3 linked regions of the Homo sapiens genome follow. The protein of the gene in region 3 purifies or fractionates together with the protein of the main gene of each other region. This does not show direct contact. Each region holds a gene or a part of one and is shown on either strand. Other genes may lie near its edges.

Region 1 (3,648 bases), on a different chromosome or scaffold from region 3:
TATACCAACTGGTCAGTGTGACTTGGGTCCTTTGCCACGTGGAGACTCCTTCCAAGCCTGCTAAGGAGGGGATTCATTTTGGATCAGTGGCAAAGAAAGCCAAGAAACAGGTGGAGTGTGAGAGAGAGACAGTTCATATTCACTGAAAGCTTGAATCTCTGAATGTCTTGCCATAACAGAATTTCTATGCTTTCAAACACTATTATTGGTGCCACCTTCATCAAGGAACGAAATCAGCCCCTGGTAGCTTGCACTTAGTTCTCATGGAAATCAGAGAATCATTTGTATTTGTCAAACTAAAAATGAACTATTGGGAGGTATTATGAAGCACTGTTCAAATCAAAGGCCTTAAAATAGTAATAAATCACTTTGAGGGAATGTGATAAATGAGGTTGACTAGAATTCAGTTAATGAACTACCAGGGCCGTTGGCCAGGTCTCCACTAGCAGCTTCAAGGGATAATTTTTGATCTGGAAAGCCTACTTGGCATTAATCTGAACTGTTCAGGCTGGAATTTGCTGGTGGATAAGTGATCTTCATTTAGGCATGTTGACCTAGTGCTGGAGGTGTCTTGTGTGAAAAAGATAGGACTTTCTTATTAACATTAAGGTGTTATCTGTGCCAGTTCAGAAACAGGATTCAAAGGCCTTACTACATCCTTCTCTTCTTTCCAGCCTTGACTTCAAGGGTCACTAGGGGCCCACATTATGCATTTCAGCCAGGTTTTGGGGCCCAATTTTGACCTCCCTTTGGCTGTACTCTACTTAGGATAAATTCCCTGAGCCTCTTCAAGACAATCTTTGGAAGGTTCTTCAGCCACAGAGCCTTTCTTACCTGTCTGACCCATTCCACACACACTCAAATTTATCAAAAATGCAGTCATTTTCATAGAGGGAACACAGCTTGCTGCGGAGGTAGTCATGAACCTGGAGAGGAAACATATCGAGAAGGTCAGTTATTATTTTAAACAGTAATTATTTCTGCAAACACCTCCTCTTCTGATGTGAGCTGTTAAATCTTTCATTGTACATGCTCTTTGAATCAGATGGCCTTGGATCTGAACCTAGGCTTGGCCCTTTTAGCTGTAGGACATTAGGATGGGTTGATGAGCTTCTCATGTAGATGATATGGATTAATCAAGCTTGCTTGTATAGACAGTGGCATCCAGTAAGACTAAATAAGTGGTAGATTCTCATTTTCTAAGCTGATTTGCTCACAGGCATTAGAGATCACCATTCATGCAGTCTTTTATTCAACAAATATTTACTGAATACCTACTACGCACTTGAGATGCAGCAGTGAGCCAAATATCCTTGCAGTGCTTTTGACCCAGTGTCAGGTGACAGATTATATAACCAAGTAAATAAATAAGATGTTTAGATGGTGATAAAATCATAGAACAAAAGTGTATGGAAAAAGAGCCTGGGAGATCTTGTCGGGGGTGTATTATTTTATACAGGGCAAGTAGTCAGGGCTTCACTGGATGAGGTAGCACTGGAGCAGAAGCCTGCAGGAGATGAATGAGCCACAGTGATGTCTGGGTTTGGGGTGAGGGGAAGGCTCTCCAAGCATAGGAAACAGCAAACATAAAGGCCTAGAGGCAGGAATCCTGGAGGGAGTGTGGTGGGAGAGGAGTGAGTAAGCAGCTGGGGGAGAGGATGATCAGTTTACATAGGCCCTTTATTCTGAGGAAGAAGAGACCTCACAGAAAGGATTGCTGAATCTGCTGTGTTGCAATGGATCCTAAGGGTGCAAAGGCAAAGGGAGGGAGACCAGTTATAACCTGAGTGATAGATTCTGGCCTGGACCAGGGCATGAGCAGTGATGGGGACTGGTCAGATTCTCCTTTTGTTTAGGGAAAGAGCAGATAGGACTTGGGTCAACTCTGAGGTGTGGAGAGAAAAACAGGAGTCAAAGATGACTCCCTGATCTTTCTCCTGAGCAAGTGGAAGGAGTAGGTACCATGTTCACTTTTGGGTACAATGGTTTAGAGATGTCTACATGTGGAGCTGTCGAGTAGACTCTGAGGTGAAAGGTGCTGTCCTGGAGTATGTGGCGATTCTTTCCTGGTTTCTCTTTTCCAGTGAAAGCAGCCAGCATGGTTATCAACTAAGAGTGAGCAGGAGAGAGAAAGGGTTGAGAAACAGTGTCAGATTTCTGGAAGGCACCAGGGGACACTTGACGTTGTTGGACATGTATGTCAAATAAGGCTCATCAAGCATAGTTGAATATTTTTCTCCAGCTACATTCAGCAACTCAGCTGTAGATGCCAAATAGATGAATAAGGTTCAGAGAGTAGTAGCCTGGGTTCTCTGTTTTGAAGGTAATCCTTCCTGAACCCACTAGCACGGAGTGGCAATAATAACGGGCATACCCAATATGCTGGCTTGTCATTATTAGCCAGGTGCTTTATCTGTCAAAACCTCATTTCATCTCTAAAGCCATCTTATGATGTAGGTACTTTCATTCTCTTTACTTTAATGGAGCATGAAGCACAGAGATATGACATCATTTGTCCAAGATCACACAGAAAAAGTGACAGAAGGGGAGGGAACTGAGCCCCGGTATCAGGCTCTGGAGTGCACACTCTGAGCTGCACTAGCAACCTGCCTCCAGCTTGCTCTGGTGGGTCCTCAGTCCTTGACAGGAGCTGTGATAATGAACTCAAGTGAGGCTGAGAGAGAAGGAGATAGAACTGTGTGAAAGCAGAGGGAGGCTACCAAGGGCATTGGTGTTTAAGTTAAGAGTGATGATTCGATCTCTTTTTTCCTGCAACTGCGGCTCTTTCTCTTCCTTCGACTCCAACAGTTCTGCTGGATGCAGAGCTTCAGGCTCTTAGTCTTGGGCAAAGGAACGAGGTCAGGCTCATCCTATGTTCCATTAGATGTTCTGGGTATTTGAAAAGCTCTGAGTTATTTGGACAGAGGAAGTTATTTCTAACTCTGCAAATTAATTTTCCCCCACCTTTACTCTCTCACTTCCAAACAGTTCCAGGCCTTGTCAGGGTAACAGCTTCAGTGCTTTGGTGACAAGGGAATACCCCTACAGCAGTGCTCTTGGCATTGTTAGGTGCATTTGGGGGCTGCAAGGGTGAGGCTGTGTCCTGCCCTTACAGAGGCATCTCTGCTATAAACTAACTCATTCACCTTCACTAGGGGGCACAGCAGTAAAGGTATATAAACTGGGCAGTGGCAAGGTTTTTAAGGTCTAGTTCCATATGTCTGCTTTGTGATGAACCTTTCCTCATCTGTCACCATTCACCTTCGGCATTTTGTCTTATTACTCACCTGCAGTGTTTCTATAAGTGTCAAAACATGTGTGCTTTGGAAGTCACGCCCATTAGCAGGAATGACATTGCTGAGAACTCTGTAAATAATTCTTGAAAGATAGAAGTTGGGATAGATTCAAGGGAAAACCTAGTCTGAACCATTATTTCTCCACCATACCTAAGGTCTGGGTAGCTCCTATCTGCCTCCAATTGACAGCATTTAAAGAAAAAGAATGTCTACTATGAAGGTATGCTGTATTTATGTTTTGTTGCACAGAAAAAAAGTCTTCTTAGGCAAACCAGAGGGACCTTTTTCTACTAGAGGAAAGAATAAAGTGAGATGTATACATGAGCAACCTCTAGAGCTTGGAGCAAGAGAG
Region 2 (3,648 bases), on a different chromosome or scaffold from region 3:
GCACTGGGCTTCTCTCCCTGCCCTCCCCTCCCCTCCTGCACTGGGCTTCTCTCCCTGCCCCTCCCCTCCCCTCCCACACTAGCCTTCTCTCCCTGCCCTCCCCTCCCACACTGGGCTTCTCTCCCTGCCCCTCCCCTCCCGCACTGGCACTGGGCTTCTCTCCCTGCCCCTCACCTCCAGCACCGGGTTGCTCTGTAGCAGCCGGTCCCGCACGGCACCTCCGCGCTCGGGGGCTGGGCAGGTCTCTGCATAGAACTGCAGCAGCCTCTTGGTGGCCTCGGTCTTGCCTGCCCCGCTCTCCCCAGAGATCATCACAGCCTGGTCCCGACGCTCCGTGCGCAGTGCTCGGTACACAGTGTCCGCCACGGCAAACCTGGGGCGGAGGCTCGTCAGGGAGTTTGGGGAGGGGGGCCAAGCAGAGCCCCACGAGAGTCCCGCTCCCACATCTGGGTGGAGTCCTCTTGTGGGAGTCGAATACACCCTTGAGGATGGGGACTGGGGGTCCCTCACAGGTGTGGGCCATGGGAGATCCGTCATAGCTGAGAATGGGCGTCACCGCCAGCGGGAGGACTGAGAGGCTCTCACAGGTGGGAGGCTGGAGGTCACTTAGGTGGAGGCTGGAGTCACTCACGGGTAGGGCTGGGGGGGGTCTTTGCAGGTGGGGTTCAGAGGTCACTAAGATTGGGGGGCCACTCCCAGTTGGGGAATAAGTCATGGGTGTGAGTCGGGGTAGGGACTGAGTCCCACCCACATGGAGCTGAGTTGCGACATTCATCTCTGGTCACTGGGGGGCAAGAGACTGTGGGATTCCTCACAGATGTGGCGCGGGACGCCAGGATCATTTCAGAGTAAGGTAAGGGTTGGGCGGGGTCACCTCAGATGGAGACAGAGGGGTCGCTCCCGGAGGGGCTGGGGTCACTCACAGGTGAGGGGGCACTTCATAGAAGCTGACGCCACGGTAACGCTCCATATGCTGCCGGCTGTAGATCTGCAGGTCCCGGTAGGGATTGACAGAGACCAGGACGGGGCCAATGTAGGTCTGGGATCGGGGGAAGAGGGTCCAAAGTTTATCCCGGGCCAGGTGCGATGGCTCATGCCTGTAATCCCAGCACTTTGGGAGGCCAAGGTGGGCGGATCACCTGAGGTCGGGAGTTCAAGACCAACCTGACCAACATGGAGAAATCCGTCTCTACTAAAAATACAAAATTAGCCGGGCGTGGTGGCGGGTGCCTGTAATCCCAGCTACTCGGGAGGCTGAGGCAGGAGAATCGCTTGAACCCGGGGGGAGGAGGTTACAGTGAGCTGAGATCGCGCCACTGCACTCCAGCCTGGGCAACAAGAGTGAAACTGTCTCAAAAAAAAAAAAAAAGTTTATCCCGGTGACCCTTGGTGTCTCTTTCCCCTCCGCTTGCCTGTGTCTGTGACCCCAGCACCCCTGCCATCTCCCCACAAGGGCCTCACGTAGATGAGATTCTCCCGAAATCGCCGCCGCAGGTTCTCGATGAAGGCGGCCTCGCTGGTGAAGTTCTCCAGCAGCACGAAATCCTGCACCCCCACCCGGTCACGGGCGGTGAGCGCACTCTCCATGGTCACCCGAACCCCGTCACTGCCCAGGGCCTGCAGAGAATGGGCCACAGAAGAGGGTCAGAGTCATCGGGGGCGGGGCAAGGCCACTTCCCTGCGCCTGTGGGACTGAGAGGGAACGTAGGGGCTTGTGGACTCCGGGCTAGACACGGGACATGAGCATGACGGGTGCGGGGGGCCTGGGTGCTGAGGGCCTGGGTGTGGTGGGCCGGGTGCGGAAAGCCGGGTGTGGAGGGCCCGGGTCCCAGTGTGGCAGCAGAGGGATCACCGAGGCTGCGGGCACAGAACAGAGACAACATGAACCACTTGGGACTCGGACACAGGGCATGGACGCAGGCAGGACCAGAGGGCAGAACCCGGGAGGTGCTGGTTTTGGGTGGAGAAAGGGGGGGTCACAAGAAGGAACTCCTTGAAATAGCAGAAAGACTGCTCTGTTGAGCTTGGACCAATCCCCTCCTCTCTCTGGTTCCTTCCTCCTAAAGGAGGAGGAGTTGAGTTAGACCAGGTGACCTCAGGTCCCTCAGCTCTGAGCCACGTGTGACAGGTGCTTTGGAGGACAAATGGCTCAGGGTCAATTCTGCAGGCAGGGTGGGGCCGTCTCTCCCACCCAGACCCACCCCCACCTCCACCGGTAGAGCGTCGAGCACCAAGCAAGAGGTTACTCCCAGACTACACCAGAGGGGTTCCCCCAGAGGGCCTCCCACCCCAGCTGGGCTCAGCCACCCACTCCAGAACGCGGGGGAGGCCCTCCCTCGCATGGCTGGGGCCACTCCCTTTCCTCCAGCTGCTGGGCTCCCCAGGCACCTCCTCCACTGAGAGTCCTGAGAAGCCTCAGGGGATGGGGGCTTTACCATGGAAAGCCCAGCTGCCTCTGGGTCCTACTGGAGGGTGGAGGGTGGTGCAGGCTGAGCAAGACCCTCGCCCCACAACCAGGGCTGAGATGGATCCCTCTTCAAACAGGGTCTCAGGGCTCCAAAAAATGGACACCCAGAGTATCCAGGGTCAGAGAAGAACAAGGTGGTGGTGATTGGGGGTGGATCCCAAAGGGGCCGCCGGTGTCCTCTGACCACGAAAGGCCCAGATTTCTGGCCGGGGGCCTGCCCCTCCCAGGCTTGTCCTCACCGCCCCGCTCCAATCCCGCGCCGAAGCGGCTGCCAAATCCGGCCGCGGTCCCCGCCCCCTCGCCCTCGGGTCAGGGGTCTCCGCGTTCTCAGGCGTCCCCGGCGGCTCCTCATCCGGCCCCGGGTCCGAGCGTCCCGCGCCGCCCTCCCCGCCTCGGCCTCCTCCCCCTGCAACTTCCCGGGACGTTTTTCCACCCGGAATTCCTGGGCCGCGCCCGCTTCCTGGCGAGGCCGAGGCGACGCCGCGAGGTGGGGAGGGACGCCCGGGACCCCCCGCCCTGCCCCGCCGCCCCCAGGCTCACCGACGCCCGGTAGCGCATCCTGCCCGGCCGGCCTGGCGCCCGCTCCGCTGCCCGCGCTCCGGGTCCCGGGCTCGGCGGCGGTGGCGGCGGCGTCAGCGAGGGAGGGCCCGCCCCCCGCACCGCCCCCACCCGGGCCCCTGAAGCGCGGGGCTTCCCCGGCCTCCCCCGCCTCCCGCGCGGCCGGGCTGGGGTCCCCTCCAGGTGGGGTTGGTGGAGGTGGGGGTGTCGGGGCGGGGGGTCCGCGGGCCGGGGGCGGGGGCGGGCTCCGCCTGAGTCAGGTTTTCCAGGAGGGACGCCGTTGGCACCAGGGTGGAGCCCGGAACCCGCGCGGCCGCCGCGTCTACACCGACCCGGAACTCACTTCCGGGCCTGGGACTACACTCCGCGGCGGGCCTGGGCGCTGGGCGGGCACCGAGGCCTGCGGGTCCCAGAGGAAGCGGGATTTTCCTCCCCCAACCCCCGAACTCGAGTCCCGGGAAAGTTAAAAATAGAACCAATGTCCAAATACGGCCGGCGCGCCCGGCGGGCGGAGCGTTCTCCGTGCGGGACGCCGTCCACCCACACGCGCCGGGGCCTGGTCCGAGCCTCGAACCCAGGAAGATCTTGGTTTTCCTCGTCAGCACGGAGCTCGCGCCCCAGGG
Region 3 (3,492 bases):
TGCCTTGCCATAGACAAGATTGTGCAAAACAAGAGACATGTCATCACAGGAAAAGAAATCACTGGGCCCTTTGGGGACTCGTTGATGAAAGACTCATTTGACCAACTGGGACTGGACAGCCACTCGCTGTTGACTTTTGAAAGCCACTGGGCCCAAATCTCAGCCCTCTTGAAATGACTCATTGCCAAATGCCACAGTGACATTTCCAGGGAAGGGGTAGGTTTGGGGGGGGTTGGTTAAACCAAACCTTTAGTGCAAAAGCCATTTTGTCCAGGACTGGCTTGATCCTGGACAGGTCCAGGTCACTTTGGATAGGTCATAGTTAGTTCCCAGTTTTGGGGGATGTAAGTAAGTCTCCTTCACCCATGGTCTCCTGGACCAACTTCTTGCAAGAATCTTCCCCTCAGCTCATCTCCTGGGCCAGCTCCTGGAGGCCCTGCTAGTATAGCTGAGGCACATGAGCTTGGGGAAAAGGTTTCTTTTGCTGAACACACAAAGAGCACAGACTCTGGGCATTTTGTTTTTGGTGGTGGTGTTTATTTTTTTAAACCCACTTGTAGTTTGGGTTCAGCTGGAAAGCAGGACATACCGACGGAGGGAGGGTGGTCGCACTAGCGGGGTTCCGCGGCAGCTTTGGCGGGAAGCCCCAGGCCCTTGCTCTGGGGAGGTAGGTCCTGTCGTCCACTCCCAGCCGGCTCAGGGAGGCGGCCAGCCCTTCCGTGTGAGTGTTCCGCGCAGAGGAAAGTTGTCTTTCTTTCTTCTGATCTGTGTCCTCAAAGGCCCAGCCAATGGTTTCCCAACACAGTGCCCTGCAGCTGAGGGACACGACTCCCCAGGCAGGCCTGAGAGTCTGTCTGTCTGACAAGGAACACGGGCCGGTGTCTGATGCCAGAAAACAGACTGGGACTTGGCTTCTTGGAGGCCCGCGTCTGGGGCACCCCATGGGGCTGCTCTGGTGGCGGCCTGGCTGTCTGGGCCCCCGCCCCTACAGCTGCCCCGGCCTGATCTGTGGTACCCTTCCCACACCCCCCACCCTCATCCCTCGGAGAAAATAATAGAATAAAATAAAAATCAATCAGAATAAATACCGACTCGGCCAACATTTACATTTACATGGATGGACAGGACGATCCCCAAACAGTGAAGGTTTACAGACTGGTCAAGGAAGGACGAACAGAGAGAATGGGGTCTGAGGGTGCACATCCCGTGGAGGGTGGCGGGGCTCCTGGCCTCGTCTGGGTGAGGTTGGGGGCCTCGCTGGGGCTGCGGTCCCAGAGCTTCGGCAAAGCCACCAGGCCTTGGGGAGCAGGGCTGTGGCAAGCAGGCCGCCTCGGAGAAAAACAATGACTAACTCATCCTGACAGGCAGTGGGGAGACTGAGACAGGATCAACATCAGATGGCTGGACCGCCTCTTCCATGCGCCAAGAACCGCGGGCGAGGGGAAAGCAATGCAAGCCTTAGAAATGCAATATCCAGCTCTGCCTCTCATCACATACATTCAGAGGTCAACTCGGACGCGGCCTTCCTCATGCCACAGAGAGGGGATGGACTTGGGGAGGGGGCCAGGGTCTGTGGGGCATCCACTTCTGTCCTGCAGTTCCTGTCTGAGCAGTCTCCCTCGGGAAGCTGCCTCGGGGTCTCAAATTTTAGGCTTGACTGTTGTTTCTTTAAAAAAAAAATAGTCTTAACGTTTTCCTTCCATATCTGAAAAAGGAGCAGCAACCTGCATTTAGAAAAACAGCTTAAAGTGTTGTTGTTCAGATTGGCTAGGAAGCGCTTTCAAGCAGTGGAATAAACTAGGCAAACAGTATGTCTGGAGCCACCGTGACACGACATGTAATTAAAAATATATTTATATATGTATACATATTTATATTTCACTTCTTCTTCACACTCTGGTCCTAACAGCCAATGGGGAGCTGCCCCTGTGGCCAGGCCATCAAGGAGCCCGTTCGGAGGAAGGAGAATCAGGCCCCAAGGTGCCCACAACACAGCCCCCTCCACACAGTGTTTCGGAGCGTCCTGCGTGAAGCTTGCTCTGAGCTCACCGTTGGGTCTGGGAGACCCCACTCCCCTGCCTCCTCCCTGACCTGAGCTCCCACTCCCAGGTCTCTCCTCTCTTCGGGGGCCTTGCCTCCTCCTAGCGGACAAACCCCACATGCTTCAGGGGGGCAGGGGCCACTGAAGCACAGGTGGAGGCTGCCTGGCCACGATGGCAAGCTCGCCCTGGGGCCTGCCCTGAGCAGCCCCGCATCAGCCCGGCTCCTCCCTCGAGGCCTCCTACCCGCGGGGCATCTGTGTTCCCAGGCTGGGCTGGGGAGGAAGGGCAGTGAGGAGGAGCTTGAGAAAGTCTGGGAAGAAACCGTGGAGGGAGGAAGAAGGCAGGGTTCAGGGCCAGGGACCAGAGGTGGCGTGCGCTTCTTGGGAGAGACCACTGACCTGTTTCAGGTAAACTTGTGCCCCCTACACCTTGTCGCCAACAGGCTCTTTTTAGAGACAGGCAAAGGCTCCACACCTGGGACCAGAGGGCAGGTTGCAGCTGCAGGGAAAGCTGGAGAGAACTGGGGAAGCCTCTCCCCACTCGCCACTCTCAGACTCAGAATCAATCAATCACGAGAACCTTCCCCGCCCATCACCTCCCGGCCAGTCCAGTGTGGACCAAGAGGGGCCTCCAAAGTGACCCAGGGCCTGCCCGGCCTCAATAAAAGAGCAAATAAGGAAGCGGCTAGGCTCTGACATCATTTCCGGGGGGGCTCATCAAAGTGTGTGCTCCAGCCCCCAGAGATGGAGCTATGTGGACACCTGTTCCACCCCACACCTTCCTCTCCAGCCAACAACAGGGCCTGCTCCCCAGGACCAGGGCCTGCCAAGAAACCCCGTCTTGTTTCCCGGCTGGGAAGCTTCATCTGGCGACCCCGCTGGTCACCTGACTGTCCCTTCCATGACCCAGTGAATTCACCCCTTTCCCAAGAGCTCACGGAGGGCTGGGCTTCTACGTCCGAGCTGGGGCAGTGACACAGCGCATTAGCTAAAATCGAGTCCTGGGGAGCCCCCACTCCCATCCTTTTCCCCAGTAAGACCTGCGTGTGGAGCGCAAGACACCATCTAGAATTTTGGTTTTAATTTGCCAGTCTCGTTCTGTGCCCTGTTTGCCACAAGGCCCCTGGGGCCAGGACCAGGTTTAACTTGGTCCCAGTGGTGACAGTATCAGCCCTTTGAGAAAACAGAGGCGCTGGAAGCCAGTGGCGAGGAACACAGGATTCCAGCGGGGACCCCCCGCCGGGGCAGAAGTTTCCAATTACCCTAATTGGCTACTGGCAAGCTGTCTGTGGCTCGAATCCTTCTTCTAGAGGGGAGCTGGGTTTGATCTCCCACTAATCCGGGGGTCCTCAACAGTGCTGACTGTGTGATCACATCACGGGCATTTTCATTGGCCAAAGAGACTTCAAAGCAACCGACTTTTGAAAAATAAAACACAATAAACAAAAGAG

Evidence for each region.
Region 1: the proteins of CTIF (region 3) and PPP2R2B purify together in Homo sapiens (co-immunoprecipitation; one large-scale study listed by IntAct). This does not show direct contact.
Region 2: the proteins of CTIF (region 3) and MYO1C purify together in Homo sapiens (affinity purification with mass spectrometry, with the first as the bait; one study listed by BioGRID). This does not show direct contact.

Annotation. Positions count from the first base shown.
Region 1 is NC_000005.10:146,592,137-146,595,784, forward strand, and holds part of PPP2R2B (serine/threonine-protein phosphatase 2A 55 kDa regulatory subunit B beta isoform), read right to left. Parts: intron 927-3,648; coding exon 835-926; intron 1-834. UniProt on the Homo sapiens protein: The B regulatory subunit might modulate substrate selectivity and catalytic activity, and might also direct the localization of the catalytic enzyme to a particular subcellular compartment.
Region 2 is NC_000017.11:1,482,687-1,486,334, forward strand, and holds part of MYO1C (unconventional myosin-Ic), read right to left. Parts: intron 3,446-3,648; exon of another isoform or gene 3,369-3,445; intron 3,075-3,368; exon of another isoform or gene 3,026-3,074; coding exon of another isoform or gene 3,008-3,025; intron 2,889-3,007; exon of another isoform or gene 2,439-2,888; coding exon of another isoform or gene 2,436-2,438; intron 1,618-2,435; coding exon 1,462-1,617; intron 1,040-1,461; coding exon 924-1,039; intron 374-923; coding exon 175-373; intron 1-174.
Region 3 is NC_000018.10:48,860,241-48,863,732, reverse strand, and holds the end of CTIF (CBP80/20-dependent translation initiation factor), read right to left. Parts: 3' UTR 516-3,492; downstream 1-515. UniProt on the Homo sapiens protein: Specifically required for the pioneer round of mRNA translation mediated by the cap-binding complex (CBC), that takes place during or right after mRNA export via the nuclear pore complex (NPC).